Regions from separate parts of the Homo sapiens genome. Here all the other regions are linked to region 3. The links come from fine-mapping of genetic effects on plasma protein levels. Region 3 holds a variant in brackets. A gene starts in each other region. All regions are shown on their reverse strands.

Evidence for each region. PIP is the posterior inclusion probability: the model's chance that the variant is causal. The UK Biobank Pharma Proteomics Project read protein levels with antibody pairs (Olink). The fine-mapping took linkage between variants from a reference panel, not from the people measured, so its PIPs are less certain.
Region 1: CRIM1 starts here. The variant in region 3 is fine-mapped to the plasma level of the CRIM1 protein (UK Biobank, PIP above 0.99).
Region 2: it holds the start of TNFRSF4, and the variant in region 3 is fine-mapped to the plasma level of the TNFRSF4 protein (UK Biobank, PIP 0.95).

The regions. Positions count from the first base shown.
Region 1 is chr2:36,349,987-36,356,425 of GRCh38, reverse strand. It overlaps CRIM1 (cysteine rich transmembrane BMP regulator 1), which reads right to left and starts at 648. Exons shown (of 17, transcript NM_016441.3): 1 at 1-648. The coding sequence starts at 133. CRIM1-DT (CRIM1 divergent transcript) reads left to right here and starts at 856. Exons shown (of 2, transcript NR_037631.1): 1 at 856-1,338; 2 at 1,445-1,677.
Region 2 is chr1:1,212,208-1,218,441 of GRCh38, reverse strand. TNFRSF4 (TNF receptor superfamily member 4) reads left to right here and starts at 4,289. Exons shown (of 7, transcript NM_003327.4): 1 at 4,289-4,459; 2 at 4,657-4,779; 3 at 5,349-5,450; 4 at 5,738-5,804. The coding sequence starts at 4,315. It overlaps SDF4 (stromal cell derived factor 4), which reads left to right. Exons shown (of 7, transcript NM_016176.6): 7 at 754-1,511. The coding sequence ends at 930. RefSeq lists a silencer at 5,162-5,211.
Region 3 is chr12:118,069,969-118,076,488 of GRCh38, reverse strand. VSIG10 (V-set and immunoglobulin domain containing 10) reads left to right here. Exons shown (of 9, transcript NM_019086.6): 5 at 2,497-2,790; 6 at 5,020-5,130; 7 at 5,422-5,437. It overlaps LOC124903030 (a long non-coding RNA gene), which reads right to left. Exons shown (of 2, transcript XR_007063479.1): 2 at 1-315. Among named protein-coding and RNA genes, the nearest start is that of WSB2, 12 kb to the right of the region's middle. The variant CCCAGCCCGAGGTGATCAT/T (reference allele first, on the strand shown) is at 2,617.

The DNA of each region.
Region 1 (6,439 bases), not on the chromosome of region 3:
ACTTGGACTCGTCACAGGGCAGGCAGACCAGCGCCCGGGTGCCGGAGCGCGCCAGCAGCAGCAGCAGCCCCAGCAGCGAGACCAGGAGGTGCCCGCAGCCGGCCAACCCCCTGTCCCCCGCCACCAAGTACATCCTCCTGCGCCGCCGCCGCCTCCTCCTCGCAGCCGGGCCGGGAGCGGGGCGGGCGCCCTCCCCTGCGCGGGGCACACGCGCCGCCGCCGCCGCACCAGCAGCCCGCGGTCCTCACCGCCCCTCTCGGGGCCCCCGGGGCGCGCCTCCCCTCGCGGGGCGAGGCCCCCGCCCCTTCTGCGGGCCGCGCCGACCCCGAGCCCACGAGCCTTGGCGCCGGCGGCAGCTTCCCCTCCTCCTCCTCCTCCTCCTCCCGGGAGGGAGGGGGAAAAAAGAAAAAAGTTTCCTCCCGGCAGCTCCGGTTCAACCCAAACTTCTGGCGCGGCGGCGGCGGTGGCTGCTGCGCTCGGCTCCAGCCCGGGCCGGCGGCGCCTCCTCCCTCTCCTCCTCCGAGTCGGCCGGCCCCGCAGCGGCGCAGCCTCCGGGCCGGTCCCCGCCTCCCGAGCTGCCGAGTGGGCGCGGTGGCGCAGCACAAGATCCGCGGCGTCCGCTCCGCGCGCCCCGCTCGCCTCACTCCTGCGCCGCTCCTCCGGGCGCTTGTTTATGGCTGGAGCCTCAGCCGCTCGGGCTGCGCCCTCCCCCATCCTACCTCCTCCCCCAGACCTTCCCCCCACCCCCACGCGCCGCGCGCCGCTCATTGGCTGCCCCCCCTCCCCGGCCCGGCCGGCCCCCTCCGCCTCCCCCTCCCCCTCTCGGGCGGCCGGGCCCTTCCTCCCTCCCTCACACGCCTCCACCTCTTCCCGATCTCCTCCTCCCCGAGCCCGGCGCACCGAGCCGGCCGTGCCACCGAGCTGCGGCTCTGGCCCCGGCGCCGCGGGTGCGCTGCGGATGGGCTTGGGGCGCACCCAGCGAGCAGCGAGAGTCGCGGTGTCCCGGGCGCTCGCTGGCACCGTGGCCGCAGCGGCCGGCCTGGGAGCCAGGAGGGCGAGGCGGCTGCACCTTCGGGGCCAGATTGGAGTTCGAAGAGTGGCGGGTACCCCAGAAGCTCGGGGCCGGGGCGATGGCTGCAGCCTCGGGAGGGTATCGCCGGATCGAACTCCGGGAAAGGGAAGCAAAGGCATGGAACCTCCGCACACTGGATGAGAATCCATCTTCCATTCGAGCTGGGAATAGACTTTGTGAAAGATATTATGTAATGGAGTCTCGGGAACCCTGAGACCTCTCCAGCGAAGCTGAAGTGAATTAATTAAGTGCTTTAAACGGTCTTGGTAAATATTCCGCGGGAGCTGGGGAGGACCGTTGGGATGGCTGTAGCTTGAGTTGAATTTTAACTGTCCTCATTCTGGGTTTTGTCGCTCTGCTTTCTGTGCCAAGGTGCTGTGTTACGGGAGAGAGTGACTGGAAAGTAACAAAGCTGAATCTTTCTCCCTGGAGTAAGGCCGAAGACTGGATTACTACACGCCTAGACGTGACACTACACCCATAGATCTCATGCATCATTAATGCCATATGACATTGCCATTTTCTTTCTCAGTTCACGGACAAAAGTGGTGGGTTTTCATTGTCTTCACTGATTGTCAATGCATTAATAAAGAAGATGTGTGGTACATAGTCTTTGTGATAAATCAGGTAAAGAAGCAACGGAAGTGATGCAAAATGCACGGTGTGGAGATGGTTTCTCTTCAGTGGTTGTCAGAAAAGGTTTTCGTAATGATGGCTCTGTCATTGATGGGATATGAAGTAGTAATCCGCTCCGTAGTGACCTACCATTCACAAGATGGGTACCAGGTGAATAACATTAATTAATTGACAAAAAGTGACTGTGGTCAATGGGGGAAAAAATCGATCCCGTGGCAGGTGTGACGTGGGAATGGCTGGCCCACCCTCTGATCCAAGATGGTCTGGCTGCAGGAAGGTGGCAGCCAAGTGGATTCTGAAAATCGTGACTAATGAACCGAAAGTTAATAGCTGGCAGTGCAAGGAAAGAGGAAACAAAGCTACCTTTGAAATGTTATGTTTGTGGAACAAATTCATACTTACGATAAATATTTTAGTTTAACCACTCTGTCTAATCCTGAACCCAAAAGCCAGAGTTACCAGTGGACTATTCCCCCATGATGGGCATCAGCAAACTAAACATTTCTCCTATCATATTTCTTTGTCCAAGGAGAGGAAGAGGCTCATTAATTATCATTGATTATTATAGGGCCATGAGGAAGATGTTCAACCGTGGAAAAGGGGAGAGAGCATTGCATTTTCTAGACGGGTTTAAAGAGTTGTTGCAATGAAATGATTCCTGTAGTTGGGTGGGAAGTCCGATTAGATGATCTCCAAAGGCCCTCATACCCTGTGGGTCCATAATAAGTGTTAAGTGGCAAAATCGTTTAAAATATGCTAGGTTTTCTATTAGAAAAACCGAAGAGACTGGGCGTGGTGGCTCATGCCTATAATCCCAGCACTTTGGGAGGCCAAGGTGGGCAGATCACTTGAGGTAAGGAATTCGAGACCAGCCTGGCCAACATGGTGAAACATGGTGAAACCCTGTCTCTATCAAAAATACAAAAATTAGCCGGGTGTGGTAGCGCATGCCTGTAATCCCAGCTACTCAGGAGGCTGAGGCAGGAGAATCACTTGAACCCAGGAGGTGAAGGTTGCAGTGAGCCGAGATTGCGTCATTGCACTCCAGCCTGGGCGACAGAGCAAGACTCTGTCTCAAAAACAAACAAACAAAAAAACTGAAGAAAAATAAAACACACATTGTTAAACATTGTTCTTTCTTGTCACCGAACAAGGCACCAGCACTTCAGTGTGGGATTTGCCAACAAACTGTCATCATTGCTCTGTGTTAAAAGGTCCCTCCCACTCTTGCAGAGGAGGTTATCTGTATTTCTGTTCAAATGCAAGTATAAAGACATTAAAATGTAGCAGATAACATTGTAGGACCTGCAGGAAAAGCCAAGGTCAGGTGATGAGAAAAAGGCAGAAGTGAGAAAGCTACTGTGGTTAGGAAAGAAGGAGGTAATAAGCATTGTCAAAGTTTAGCTTCTATTTATTTTTAAGGGGATATATTAAGGATTAAGGAAAGCTACAGATGAGCACAGGCAAAGGATAATTTGGAGATGACTATTCATTGTTCCTGGGACTTCAGAAGTAGAACCACCTGGAAGGTAGATGGACAGATACAACATGAGAAAGGTTGACTTCTCACAGGAATTCAAGTCAGGTTTAGAAAGGACTAGGGAGATTCTTTAAGATGAAGATGATTGTATCAGCTCAAAAAGAAAAAAAAAATCAAGTTACATTACACATGCCCTTTGGCATAAAATTAATAGTCATAGAAGCAATAGAGAAAATAGGATTCCTTGAAGCCAGTGACTAGTGGCGAATGAGAAACCTGCAAGGTCCTGGCAGCTTTTCTGAAACCAGTGTGTGAATCAGGAGCTCAGTTATGAAACAGCTCTTTCTTCTCTGGGATCCAGGAGGGATGATAATGAGGTAGTGAGAAGCTGAGGCAATGATACTGAGGCTCGAATACAAAAGTATTTTCTTATCTTCAAAGACCAGACTATGGTTACAGAAAGAGTTTGGGTGAGCCCAACATGATGACAATCAGGTGTCACGGGTGAAAGTGGACTAGGAAGAATTACCCTGAAATTGAATGGACCCTGAAAGTCATGAACGAATGTTAAGAATTAGAGCCACACATGAAAGGCCTCCCTTTCTGAGAAGCCTTCTTGAGCTTCTTTATCTGTTCTACAGCATTTGTAAGTACCTCTGCTTGTAGCATTTATCATGTTACATTATAGTTATTTAAATAACTCTGAACCCAATTAGCTTGTCAGCTTATTGGAGAGGGCAGGATTTATAAAAATGCATGCATGAATGAGTTGAAAAAGGGAGAGTGAAGAATTACAGTCAAAATGATATTTGAATATTATTGTCTGCAGCCCTTCTCTCTTGGTTTTAGTAAATACCTCAAAATCAGTACTTGAAAGGGATGGTATGGGCAGGAGGGAGTCATCGAAGTTTGGGGTGGGGGTGGTGGGGGGGTGGGGGAGGGGTTGGGGAACAGGTCTGCAACGAACCAGGAATTACGAAGTATTTCTGATGGAGGTCTAGAAGAAGAGATCGTCTGCCCTCTATTGGCCATCCTGGGGATTAATAAATTGTTGAAAATGTCGAAAATCAAAGTGCCCATTTGTTGGCCTAAGCAGAAAGTGGAAATGAGAGGGCAATAGACAGAATGTTAGTATTAGACCCCGCCTTTCCGATACAGTGTCTAGTCCACCTATAGTCACACTCTGTATTTTCTCTTCCTGAAATGAAAAGAAAAATGTAGAAGTTGCCTTTGAGTTTGGCTCACATACTCTTGGAATTGAGTTGCACTTTGTATTTTCTCTTCCTGAAATGAAAAGAAGAATGTAGAAGTTGCCTTTGAGTTTGACTCACATACTCTTGGAATTGAGTTGCACAAGAGAAGAAACCTCATTGTGTTATGAAAACGTTGCATACATATTAGAAAGTGGTACGAATAAACCAGGGTAGCAGGTCTGGCCCGTTTTACCCTCTTAGGCCATCTCTCTGGTCTCCTCAGCTGGGATCACCTATATATGGGTTCTCACTTAATCTAGGCTTGGCACTGCAGTGATATAGACAGACCCTAGTTTGGAGGCTCAACCATCTGGATGTTGGACTCTTAATCTGAAATTGAACTCTATTATCACCACGTAATACCTTATTTTTGCTAAGTGGGTTCTTATTTACTCTGCCTGTGAATGATAGCTGCTGCAGAACTACCACAAGGTTTACAAGACATCTGCACAGAACACAGGTTCTCTTTGATGTTTGGCCTAGGATCCTGACACACACACACACACACACACACTCTCTCTCTCTCTCTCTCTCTCTCTCTCTGTGTACAAGTTTAAACAAGGTATTTATCCTTTCTGAATCTGTCTTCTCTGTAAAACAGAGACAAGAATACCAACCATACAGGGTATCGTGTGGATAAAATGATTGCTCTCCTTTTCTATTGTTATTTTTAGAGTCCTTCTAATTGAGTGTCTCCTCAAGTTTTATGCTTGAGCTGGAATCCCTGCTCTCTGTTATCTTAGCATCCATTGCTGTGCAACATCTGCTGGATCAGATATTTGCTTTTTTTTTTTTCTTTCTTAGGATCTTCTGTTGGCCTTGTTTTGACAGTCTGTCTCATCTTGGGGTTTTAGCCTCTGTGATATTTTCTCAGACTCATTTTGGTCTCTGACTTATTTTAAAGAGCAGTAATTGGTAATGATAATAGTAATAGCTGACACTAATAAAGATCTTATTAATTGCTAGTCAACATGCTAAGTGCTTCATATAGGTTATTTTAAGTAATCTACGGAAGAGCGCTGTAAGACCAATGGTTTCTATTATCTCTAGTGCCTTACGTTGTCTTCATTTTTTACAGGTGAGGAATCTGAGTTATAGGAGGTTGTGTGGCTTGTCAAGGTCTCAGAGCTATGTGTATGGATATTAAGCTTAGAACTCAGTCCTATTCTGCCTTAAGGGCCTGTGTGTTTAACTACCTCAATTCAGTAAGTTGGGTAATGGTGAGCTGCTTTTCTTTTCAGTTTTGTTGTTTTTTGTGGACCTCATTTAAAATTGCTAACATCTATGACAATATCTTGTCTTCTTTGAGAAGTTTAAATACTGATCAGCGTTTTCTCAAAATGGAAATAAGATCATTGCTTTCCTAACTACTGAATAACAAATATTTATGTAACGTTTGCCATGTGCATATTTTTTAATTACCTTACAATATTACCACATTTAATCCTCCATAAAAGCTGATGAGGTAGGTACTGCATTTTACAGGTACATTTACACCTATTTAAAAGGAAAAATTGGGGTGGGTGCGGTGGCTCATGCCTGCAATCTCAGCACTTTGGGAGGCCAAACTGGGTGGATCGCTGGAGCCCAGGAGTTTGAGACCAGCTTAGGCAACATAAGGAGAACCCATATCTACAAAATAATAATAATAATGAACTAGCCAGGCATGGTGGGATGTGCCTGTATTCAGGAGGCTAAGGTGGCAGGATTGCATGAGCTTGTGAAGTTGAGGCTGAGGTGAGCCGAAATTACACCACTGCCTTCCAGGCTGGGTGACAGAGTGACACACTGTCTCTTACTTTTCCAGTAAAGGAAAAATTGGAATTCAAACCTAGGCAGTATGGGGACAGAATCCACTCTATGCAATATTACTTCTAATGTATGTTTTTTAACAAATACATGCTCACTGGGGGAAAAAAGAGAAAAGACAGACAAGTAAAAAAGAAAAAAAGAAGAAAGAAAAACATCACCTATAATGGTTTTATCTCAGGTGAGATA
Region 2 (6,234 bases), not on the chromosome of region 3:
CCGTGTCCCGGAGCCGGCCCTGCGAGGTGCTGTGGCGGGAGGGGCTGGTGGATCTGGGCCTGAGGCAGGAAGCTGTGCTGGTGTCTGGCCTGAGACTCCATCTGGGCTGGTCACTGGGGCGTTTGCTCAGCGGTGTCCACCAGGCTGCATGGCCGTTGTTGGCGTTTAGGTTCAGACGGATCAGAGACAGGCGAGCCTGGCCGGGCTCCATCCTCAGCCCCTTGCGGAGGCGTCAGGGTTCTCACAGCCCCTTTTTAACGGGACCACAAGGGGAAGCTCATGCTGGGCCCAGCATGGAGGCAGGTCCAAGGCCCAGCAGGTGCAGGTGGGCGGGGCGGCCTGTGCCACATGGCTGGAATTTACCACCTTCCTCTGAAGCGTTTTCACTGGTATCATGTGTAGGCTTGTTTTTCTCCCACTGCTGAGTGAGTCATCTTGTTTTTATGTAGAATCCTGTGATTCCTGGCGACAGCCAGTGGGCCCGGCCCAGGTTAGGGATCCTTCAGAACTGGGGTCCAGGCCTGTGTAGCCCCTGTGCCCCGTTACCCCTGCTGGCCCCGGGCAGGCCTTCCGGGGCCCCCGGCTTCTCCCTGCCCTGTGTTTTCATTTGTGCCGCCTCCCTTCGGGAACCTTCCAGAACGTGCCCACACTCCCGCTGCAGCCAATAGGCACCTTAAATAGCCACTTCGTGCGGCTGGCCGCGGAGCTCGGAGGGGGAAAGGCGACGCTGACCTGTGCCCCGCTCGCCCGCAGAGCTACATGGACCCCATGAACGAGTACAACGCGCTGAACGAGGCCAAGCAGATGATCGCCGTCGCCGACGAGAACCAGAACCACCACCTGGAGCCCGAGGAGGTGCTCAAGTACAGCGAGTTCTTCACGGGCAGCAAGCTGGTGGACTACGCGCGCAGCGTGCACGAGGAGTTTTGAGCGCCCGGCCGCGCCCCGCGCCGCCCCCCACGCACCACCGGGGCGGCCTCGCGGGTGACTCCGGGCTCCGTGGCTGTCCCGGACCCCACCTCTTCCCTGCCGCCCGCCACCGGCCGACCGACCGCGGCTGCCCCAGTTGATGAGCGGCGTGTCCCCTCTGCAGCGCGCACCCCGGCGGGGCTTTGGCTGTGACGCGGTCGGGGCGCGGGGCTGGGCTGTGGCCCCGCGGCGCCGCCTCCTCCCTGGTCCCTCGAAATCGTGGCATCTCACTTCTGAGAACGAAATCTCGCTTCAGTCACTCTGCCGAAGGCGCTGACGGCATCGCGGCCGGAACCTCTGGGCCCGGCCCCTCCCAGGGCCGCCGCTCCGTGGGAAAAAACAGCTCCTCCATTTCCTTGAAAACTGAACGATTATTAAAAATAGATTAAACTTCGCTGGAAATGAGTAGCCAGGAAGTTCAGGGGAGGGTGCCGGGTCCTTCCCGGGCCTGGCGTGTCGGAGCCACCCAGGTCCCGCAGCTGCCGCTGAGAAAATGCAAATATTTGTTGTGACAAGAATCACATACATTTACTTTAAATATAGTTGCCTTTTTTGGTCAGCTTCATTCTTTGGGCGTGAAACAAAACACAACAGCAGCGTGCTAGGTTTGTGGTTACAGTTTCCACTGGAGCGCTGGAGGCTGGTGCTGGGTCACGTGGAGGGTTGGAGGTCATGGCCGGTTCGAGGTGATTCTCCTGGCAGGTGGCAACGGGCAGGGGCTCTGGGAGGACGGAGGGCAGCGCTGCGTTTGTGAGTAGGGGTCAGGGGGCAGCAGACGTGCCCACTGAGTTTGGGGTTTGGACATTTAAGGCAGGAGACAGAGCCGCCTGGGGGTTTTGGGTGGAGGATGGCAAGGTCTTTGGGTGCAGTGGGGCAGGCCTAGCCCCAGATGGGGCAGAGAATGGGGTGTGTTAGGACGGCTGGTGGGGGTCCTGCTCTGTGGCGTGTGGGGGCCCAGGCTGTGTCCTGGCTCTCCCAGTGGGAGCTCAGGGAAGCCGGGAGTGTGTCCTCTTCAGTCTGCCCTGTGGTGCCCATGTGACCGGCCTCTGCCCTGAGCCCACCTGCCCAGGGGCCCCTGTGGGGCCGAGAGGGCGGGTTGGCACCTGGGCTGGTTCCCAGGCAAACGAGATTCACAGAGCCACGGCCAGCGCAGGTGGTGGGAGGATGGTCCCACGCCCTGCTCTAAGGGGCTGTAATTCCCTGGAGCCAACCTTCGGTGGCCTGGACTCTGTCTTTCCCCATCCGTGGCCCCAGGCCACAGCCAGGGACCATCATAGCTGCAGCAGCATTCGACGCCCTGTGCTGAGGGCCGTGCACCCAGAGGTGGGAGGTGTGAGCTGAGGCCATGCTGTGCTGGACATGAAGGCGGGGGGACAGCTGGGTATGTGGTGGCACCTGGCCCTTCAGAGGCCCCAGCCAGCTCCAGTCTGGTACTGGAGGAGCAGTGGCCACTCATGGGCTGCCCTGTGCCGCCCGCGACACTACTGTGTGGAGCGGGGAGCCCAGCTCCTGGGGATGTGGTTCGAGCTGCAGGCTGCCTTACAGACCTTGGGGGTCCTGAGCTCTGGGTCAGTGTCCAGCCTCCTGTGGCCACGCCACACCCGGTTCCATGGACACAGCAGGGCTTTCTTGGACCTGTGACCTTAAGCCCAGGACAAGGAGACCTGAGCTTCCTGGGCAGCTTCAAGCAGGAGGGGCCGTGCCCCATCCTGGGGCCATTGCAGTTGCCAGCAATATGCTGGGGGTGCCCTCTCCATGGTGCACGGGCCCCACTCACTGCACCTGTGGGCAGATGTGGCCACTTAGGCCCCAGGAGAGCAGTGTTGCCCACCAAGACCCCCAGTTCACCTGAACCTCCAAGGAACCAATTGCAAATGTAAGCTTTTTCTCACTGTCAGTGGGAAACCCTTGTGAACGCTGGGTGGAACCTTCCACAAAATGCCAGAACTTTCCTCCTCTGCCCACCTGGGTTGGGGTGTGCACATGCAGGTACACACACTGTCTGGGATGCTCTGAGCCCTTCCAGGGTCCTCTCTACTTGTGGGGACGTGGGGAGGGTGACCAACTTAGGGACCCTCAGTCCGAGGGCGGGTGGCCTCTCCCTCCACTCCCTCCCTCTCCAGGGCCAGCGGGCTCCACGGCTGGGAATTTCCCCACGGGTGGGCCGAGGACAGGCAGCTGTTTCCTGTGCTCCTGGGAGGAGGGGATTTCCAGCCCCTTCCCTGCTGCTCTGTTCCTAGAGGCCCCTCTCCACTTGCAACTTCAAAAATGAACTTTTGGATAATCACAGGCTGGTCACAGTTATTTGAAAGGTGCAGAAAGGGCCCAGGGAGCCCCCAGCCCCGCACCTGCTCCCCAGCTCTCCGGGCAGTTCGCATCCTCTGGGCAAACCTGGAACCTGAGAACTGTTTGCATAGAAGGTGGAAACCTGCCTGCGTGCCCGTGTGCGCCAGGCCATCCAGGACCCACCCTCACCACCTCCTCAGAGGCCTGTCTCCAAACACTGCCACATGGGGGTTAGGGCTTCCACGCAGGAATTTAAGGGGCACAGTTCAGCCATAGACACCTGCCGTGCTCAGGCACACTCAGCGTGGGCTGTGGTCACGGGTGTCTTTTTTTTTTTTTTTGAGATGAGTCTCGCCCTGTCGCCCAGGCTGGAGTGCAGTGGCGCCACCTCTGCTTTGCAACTTCTGTCTCCTGGGTTCGAGTGATTCTGCTACCTCAGCCTCCTGACTAGCTGGGATTACCGGCGCCCGCCACCACGCCCGAATAATTTTTGTAGTTTTAGTAGAGACGGGATTTCGCCATGTTAGCCAGACTGGTCTTGAACTCCTGACCTCAGGTGATCCACCCGCCTTGGCCTCCCAAAGTGCTGGGATTACAGGCGGGAGCCACCGTGCCTGGCCATGGGTGTCTGTCTTACCATGGCTGTGGTCACTGCTGCTCAGAGCTAGTCTTGGGCATACAAGGGGGACCATGCTTCAGCAGTGCCACAGCCCTGAAGGTCCAGACTGAGGAGTTGCCTCTCCTGACTCAGTGCTGCCTCAGTTTACCCACGTGCTCCATGGACCTTTTTGCTGAGGGTCGAGCCGCAGGCCAGGCCCTACTGTGCCCTGGGGTCTGAACACGGTGGTCTTGGGCAGAAGAGGTCAGAAGGCAGAATAAGCCAATGCTGGGGGTGCCCAGACCCCGCCTTTGTGCCCAGCCCACAGCCAGGGTCCCCGGCCTGCCACCTTCCTCCTCCCGCCTCCTCTGCCCTCCTCCCCTCTCCCCTCCCCTCCTCCACAGTCCTTATAGCCACACCCCGCAAGGAAAACCCAGACTCTGGCGACAGCAGAGACGAGGATGTGCGTGGGGGCTCGGCGGCTGGGCCGCGGGCCGTGTGCGGCTCTGCTCCTCCTGGGCCTGGGGCTGAGCACCGTGACGGGGCTCCACTGTGTCGGGGACACCTACCCCAGCAACGACCGGTGCTGCCACGAGTGCAGGCCAGGTGAGGCCTCAGGAGGGGTCGCCACGCACGGGCACTCCAGGGACTGGGGGCTGGGGCAGGGATGGGCCAGCCAGGAGGCTGGTCCTGGGGAGGGGGCGGGTGAGGGGCCGGCCAAGCCTGGCAGAGGAGCCGCCTGGGGGGGTCCACGGGCGCAAGCCTGGGGCCTGACCGCTGCCTGACGCCGGCCTCTGCTGCAGGCAACGGGATGGTGAGCCGCTGCAGCCGCTCCCAGAACACGGTGTGCCGTCCGTGCGGGCCGGGCTTCTACAACGACGTGGTCAGCTCCAAGCCGTGCAAGCCCTGCACGTGGTGTAACCTCAGTGAGCTCCCACCTGGCCCCACAGCCCCACCCAGCACAGGGGGCGGCAGCCTGGCACCCACATTCCCACGCAGCAGCATGGGGCTCCCACAGCCGCAGAAACGAACCTCAAACCACAGCGGGGTCTGCTCCGCCACAGGGGTCCTTCGAGGAGCTGAGGCGTCTCCCAGGGGCACCCCCTCTCCCTCCGGGGGCCCAGACTCGGCCCAGGCCACGTGGAGTCGGGGAGACCACGCTGGCCATGTGGCCTGGCCTTGCTGGCCTGAGCAGTGAGGCTGGGGGGTTGGGCCATGGAGACCCTGCCGCAGGCGGGGCTGGCGGCTGGAGGCGGTGGAGGGGTAGGGAAGGGTGGCTGGGGCTGCCACGGAACCAGCCCCAGGTTGTGGCCAGGAAGGGAGGGCCCAGGAGCCTCGGGGGCTGCAGGGGCTCCAAGTCTCAGGGGAGGCCGCAGACCCCTGCCCACGGCCCTCTGTGTGGTGGGGAGGCCAACCTGTCCTCCAGTGCCCACGCTTCCTGAGGACCCTGTCCACAGCCCCCACCTGACCACCCCCCCATCCGGCCCCTGCTCAGGAAGTGGGAGTGAGCGGAAGCAGCTGTGCACGGCCACACAGGACACAGTCTGCCGCTGCCGGGCGGGCACCCAGCCCCTGGACAGCTACAAGCCTGGAGTTGGTGAGCTCGGTGGCTGCGGCCGGCGGTTGGGGGTGTGCATAGCGGCTGTCTGTGACGCAGATGGGCCGTGGGCCGCAGGGACCTGGCCCCACCGGTGCCTCCTCTGGCATCCTCAAGACCGAGCTCCCGGGTCAGGGCCCACGGGTGGGATGTGGGCAGGGAGGGCTTCCAGAGGCCAAACCCACCACCCAGCCATGGGGGGCAAGTGCCTGCCCCACAGGCTCTGCCCCATGTCCCCAGCACCCGGGGCCTGTGGGCAGCCCCTGACCACCCTATCTTTGTTGCAGACTGTGCCCCCTGCCCTCCAGGGCACTTCTCCCCAGGCGACAACCAGGCCTGCAAGCCCTGGACCAAGTGAGGGGCCTGGCCAGGGGCTGGGAGGGGCTGGGGGGGGGTTGGGGTGGTTAGGAGGGCGGAGGAGCTGGGGAGCTGGGAGGGGCTGGGGGGGCAGGTGGGGTGGGGGCAGTTTTGGGGGAAGGGGAGGTGCTGGTGGCCCTGGGGGCCTGGCTATGTGGCTGGACCTGGTTGGGGAGCAGGAAGCTGCTGCCTGGGGGCAGCCTTTCCCTGTGGGTGGAGCTGGGTGTGTGGGACCCTCACCCTCCGCAGCTGGGAGGCCCTGGGGGCACAGGACAGGGAGGTGCTGGTGGGGGGTGTAGATGTGGGAGAAGGGTGTGTGGCCTTGGAGGCCCCTGTGGGGGGCACGTGGGGCTGGGCAGCGTCCTTGGCTGTCACTGGCCTGGTGTCTGTGGTAGATGCTGCCTGTGGCTGGCCAGCGTGGACCCTG
Region 3 (6,520 bases):
TGTTGAATTGTAACTCCAAATATTGGCAGAGGGACCTGGTGGGAGGTAATTTGATCATGGGAATGTATTTCACACAAACACTAACACTAACGATAGGTGATGAGCCAAAAAAAAAAAAAAGGGACCGTGCATAATTTTCATGATATCCATCACACAGATAAACAAAAATGTCCTCACATTCAAAGCCATCCTGGGCCGAATTTAGCCCGCAGCTGCAGGTTGGAAAAGCTTGCTCTAGAGCGTCCAAAAGGAACCAGCTCTGCCAACATCTTGATGTTAACCTTGTAAGACGTTCTAGACTCCTGGCCTCCACAACTGTTAAGAGAATAAATGTGCTTTAAGCCACTAAGTTTGTCACAATCTATTACATCAGCAATTGGAAACAAATACAGCTGCCCTCTTGTCCCCTTGAAATCCTTGTCAGATATGTGTCCATTTTTATACGATCAGTACAGTTTTTATGTGTAAAAGTGTATAGCATAGAAGGAAGGCTTATGGATACAGTAGCCAGTTTATCCTGGTTTGCACAGAACTCTCCTGGTTTTAGGACTGAAAACTCCTCATTCTGGGAATACTCCACGTCCTGGGCAGACTGGGGCAGTTGATCACTCTGAATCCTAGCTGCATTGCCTATTTAGTTCTGTAGCATTCAGCAAATTACTTAACTTTCTCTGTGCCTCAGTTTCCTTATCTGCAAAATGGGCATAATAACAGGGTTGCTGTGAGAGTGAATTGGGTTAATACATGTAACAGTGCCTTGCCCACAGTAAATGCCTAGTAATCTTAGGCTTATTATGATGTAAGACGAGGTGTGGTGGAGAAATTTCTGGAGTTGGCCAGGCACGGTGGCTCATGCCTGTAATCCCAGCACTTTGGGAGGCCAAGGTGGAGGATCATTTGAGGTCAGGAGTTCAAGACCAGCCTGACCAACATGGTGAAACCCTGTTTCTACTAAAAGTACAAAAATTAGCCAGGCATGGTGGCAGGCACCTGTAATCCCAGCTACTTGGGAGGCTGAAGCATGAGAATCACTTGAACCTGGGAGGCAGAGGTTGCAGTGAGCCAAGATCACAGCACTGCACTCCAGCCTGGGTGACAGAGCGAGACCTTGTCTCAAAAACAAAAAAAGAAAAAAAGAAATTTCTGGAGTTGCTTCATTAGGAAGGAAATGTAGTGTTCCTGCCTTACCCATGAGGGATATGTTCCTAGATCCCCAGTGGATGCCTGAAGCCATGGGTAGCACTGAACCCTATATATATATATACACACACACACATATATACACACACACACATATATATATACACACATATATACATATATATACATATATATACATATACACATATATACATATATACACATATATATACATATACACATATATACATATATACATATATATACTATGCTTTTTCTTATACATAAATACTTATGATAAGGTTAATTTATACATTAGGCACAATAAGAGATTAACAATAGTAACTAATAAAAAATAGACAAGTATAACAATATACTGTCATAAAAGGTATGCGAATGTGATCTTTCTCTCAAAATATCTACTCAGCCTTCTTGTGATGAAGAAAGGCTCATGCAGATGGTGTGAGATTTCGTCACACGACTCAGAACAATGTGCAGTTTAAAACTTAGGAAATTGTGAATATACTTAAAAGTACTGCAAGAAATGAAAAAATAAAAAATTTATGAATTGGCCCGGCACGGTGGCTCACGCCTGTAATCCTAGCACTTTGGGAGGCTAAGGCAAGTGGATCACCTGAGGTCAGGAGTTTGAGACTAGCCTGGCCAATATGGTGAAACCCCGTCTCTACTAAAAATACAAAAATTAGGTGGGCGTGGTGGCTCATGCCTGTAATCCCAGCCACTTGGGAGGCTGAGGCAGGAAAATCTCTTGAATTCAGGAGGTGGAGATTGCAGTGAGCTGAGATTGCATCACTGCACTCCAGCCTGGGCGACAAAGTGAGACTCCATCTCAAAAAAAAAAAAAAATTGTTCATTTCTGAAATTTTCCATTTAGTATTTTTGGACTGTAGTCAACCATGGTAACTGAAACCTCAGAAAGTGAAATCACAGATAAAGGGGACTGGGGCCGGATGCGGTGGCTCACGCCTGTAATCCCAGCACTTTGGGAGACTGAGATGGGCAAATCACCTGAGGTTGGGAGTTTGAGACCAGCCTGGGCAACATGGTGAAACCCTGTCTCTACTAAAAATACAAAAATTAGCCAGGTGTGGTGGCGCATGCCTGTAATCCCAGCTCGGGAGGCTGAGGCAGGAGAATTGCTTGAACCCGGGAGGGAGGCAGAGGTTGCAGTGAGCTGAGATCGCACCACTGCACTCCAGCCTGGGCAACAGAGCAAAACCTCCATCTCAAAACAAAACAAAACAAAACAAAAAACTACTGCAGTTTTCCTGCAGATCTCAGGCCATGACTTGAATCTCTTTAAACATTTGTCTTTGTTTACCTTCTGATCACCAGGGGGTCCCTCCCTTCTCTCTGAGCCCATGAAGACTTGCTTCACTGGGGGCAATGTGACGCTTACATGCCAGGTGTCTGGGGCCTACCCCCCTGCCAAGATCCTGTGGCTGAGGAACCTTA[CCCAGCCCGAGGTGATCAT/T]CCAGCCTAGCAGCCGCCATCTCATTACCCAGGATGGCCAGAACTCCACCCTCACTATCCACAACTGCTCCCAGGACCTGGATGAGGGCTACTACATCTGCCGAGCTGACAGCCCTGTAGGGGTGAGGGAGATGGAAATCTGGCTGAGTGTGAAAGGTGAGTGGTGGAACTGGGCCTGAAGGAGGGAGGGTTCAGAGCTTCAGAGCACCCAGCATCAGCATGAGGACAGCCTGGTGCCTCCCTACACATGGGTCACTGCCAACTGGGAGAAGGCATATCTGCTTGCTTATGACTTGACAAGGTGGCTGGAAGAAATTATCCAACCCTAAACTCACTAATATTTCCATAGGTAGCAAAAATTACATAATATCTATACACACCAACGAATAGATATCTAGTGTATGTCAGTTGTAAAGCATAACAGCAAAATGAACACCTAAGAAACTATCATCCCACTGAGGATACAGAATAGTACCAACATGCATTAGGTTACTTGTATGTCTCAGGGCCAGATTTGGAAACAACGATAGGGCTGGGCACAGTGGCTCACGCCTGTAATCCCAGCACTTTGGGAGGCCGAGGCGGGTGGATCACTTGAGGCCAGGAGTTTGAGACCAGCCTGGCTAGTATGGTGAAACCTCGTCTTTACTAAAAATACAAAATTACTTGGGAGGCTGAGATGGGCAGATCACCTGAGGTTGGGAGTTCGAGACCATTAGCTGAGCATGGTGGCAGGTGCCTGTAATCCCAGCTACTCGGAAGTCTGAGGCAGAATTGCTTGAATCTGGGAGGCGAAGGTTGCAGTGAGCCGAGATCACACCACTGCACTTCAGCTTGGGTGACAGAGCGAGAATCCACTTCAAAAAGAAGAAAATAGCAATAGAACTTTAAAAACAGGATGCCTGCTTAAATTTGAGTTTAGAAAAATAAATACTTTTAAGTATAAGTGTGTCCCAAATATTTCATGAGACATACTTACACTAAAAAAACTATTCATTGTTTATCTGAAATCCAAATTTCACTGGGCATACTGAATTTTACCTGGGAACCCTCCCTGTAGGCCTAGTCTCATCTTGGGCCTCTCTCGAAAGGTAACCATGGTCCTGAATTTTAAGTTTTACTATATATGTCTCTACTTATTTCTTTTTATTTTATTTTTTATACAGATGAGGTCGCACTGTGTTGACCAGGTTGGTCTTGAACTCCTGGCCTGAAGTGAGCCTCCCATCTCAGCCTCCCAAAGTGTTGAGATTGCAAGCATGAGCCACCACACCTGGCCTCTTTCTTCCCTTCCCTTCTCCCTTTTCCTTTCTCTTCTCCCTTTTCCCTTTCCTACCTTCCTTCTTTTCTTTCCCTCCCCTCCCCTCCTCTTTCTTTCTTTTTTTTTTTTGAGACGGAGTCTTGCTCTGTCACCCAGGCTGGAGTGCAGTGGTGCGATCTCGGCTCACTGCAAGCTCCACCTCCTGGGTTCATGCCATTCTCCTGCCTCAGCCTCCCAAGTAGCTGGGACTGCAGGCGCCCGCCGCTGTGCCCGGCTAATTTTTTGTATTTTTAGTAGAGATGGGGTTTCACTGTGTTAGCCAGGATGGTCTCGACCTCCTGACCTCGTGATCCGCCTGCCTCGGCCTCCCAAAGTGCTGGGATTACAGGCGTGAGCCACCGCGCCCGGCCCTCTTTCTTTCTTTGAGATGGAATTTCGCTCTTGTTGCCCAGGCTGGAGTGCAATGGCGCGATCTTGGCTCACCGCAACCCCCGCCTCCCGGGTTCAAGTGATTCTCCTGCCTCAGCCTCCCAAGTAGCTGGGATTACAGACATGCACCACCACACCTGGCTAATTTTGTATTTTTAGTAGAGACGGGGTTTTAACATGTTGGTCAGGCTGGTCTCGATCTCCCGACTTCAGGTGATCCGCCCTCCTCAGCCTCCCAAAGTGCTGGGATTACAGGCATGCGCCACTGCGCCCGGGCTCTAGTACCAATTCTTAAATAGTGCTTCCTTTGCTCAAGACCCTGTCATATATCAATTATACTTACGTGTGGACCCGTTCCTGGACTCTCTGTTCTGTTCCGTTGATCACTCTGTTTATCATGGCATTGATAACTCTCAACACTCTTACTTACCATGGCCTTAGAAATAGTCTCAGTGTTTGGTAGACAGAGAGATTTTAACTTTCCATTGTTTGTTCACATTCCCTGCTCCATCTGATCCCCACAAACTCTCTGAGGTTGGGTGATAAAATATTTATCTGGCATTACAGACAGGTCATAAGCCTTACCCAAGGTCAGGAATCAAGACAAGAACTGGATCCACGCAGAGAAAGGGAGGTGTTGTTCTAATTGCACACATATCTGATGGAAGAATCAATGGTGTGATTTGTCTTTACAGAACCTTTAAATATCGGGGGGATTGTGGGAACCATTGTGAGCCTCCTTCTGCTGGGACTGGCCATTATCTCAGGGCTTCTGTTGCATTATAGCCCTGTGTTCTGCTGGAAAGGTAAGGACTCCCTGGGTCCTTTAGCTTCTCTTCCAGACTTTTGAAAAGGTGCGGGATGGGGAAGGATGGCCCCTGCCTTGCTCCCACCTGAAGTTCTGTTCTCTGGGCTTCTTTGCTGGGTCAAGATACACAGTAATAAGTCACCTAAGTACCATCCCGGGACACCCTATCACCTGTCATATTGAGTCAGTTTTCTTATTTGTTCCTCTAGTAAATGTTTGCCTGATTAAGAACCTGTCAGGTTGAAGTGGATGTTACTGGATATTAATGGTTTTTCCTTTCTCTCTTCAGTAGGAAACACTTCCAGGTGAGTGTTCCCTAGAATCAAACCAAACACCCATTCCCGCATCTGTCTTCACTTCTGTTTTGTTCCCTTCCTTTCACAAGAACAATAATAGCAACTACCATTGAGGACCTACGATGTGCTAGACACTGGCCTAGGGATTTCATCAGGTATTCTTATAAACCCTTTCATCATCTCCTCAGGGTGGTGGTGACATCTCCATTTTCCAGATAAGGGGATGGAGGCTCAGTGAAGTAATTTCTGCAAGCTCATTCCAGAAGAAAGCAGCAGTGCCTTCCTTCAGGTCCAGGTCTAATCAATTCCAAAGTCTGTGTTCTTTTACAGCGCCAAACCTCAGGGCTGGACACATTGCAGGTCTGTCATTGAGACAGAAAGACAATGTGTACATTTTGAGCCAGTCATTCATGCATTTGTTTTATTTAATTTTCTAAAAAGAGCTAAAAGAAAGAATCAGTCATAGTCTTAAGTTTTTTTTTCTTTTTCTTTTTTCTTTTTTTTTTTTTTTTTGAGACAGAATCTCTCTCTCTTGCTCAGGCTGGAGTGCAGTGGTGCAGTCTCAGCTCACTGCAATCCCTACCTCCCAGGTTGAGGCCATTCTCCTGCCTCAGCCTTCCGAGTAGTTGGGATTACAGGTGCGCACCATCAAGCCTGGCTAATTTTTGTATTTTTAGTAGAGACAGGGTTTCACCATGTTGCCCAGGCTAGTCTCAAACTCCTGGCCTCAAGTGGTCTGCCCGCCTCGGCCTCCCAAAGTGCCGGGATTACAGGCACGAGCCACTGCACCCAGCCAGTTTTACAGTGTTTTGGAAGACTACTATGAGCATGCCCAGAACCCCCTCCCAAAAGGAAACCCCAGTAGGGGCGAAGGAACCAAACGGAACTTGTGTATTTCATTTCCTAAGGAGATTCTGGGTGGGAGCAGAGTACTCTTCTCTATGATCCTATGGAAAAACAGTTCTTTACCTCTTCAAAATGACAGGATATTATTGACCTGGGACCATCTTTCGTAGCAAAACATTACCTTTACTGCCCTGTATTGGAGGGCCATTCTTAGTAAGTCTGTCATTCCCTGGGCTTATTTCTCAC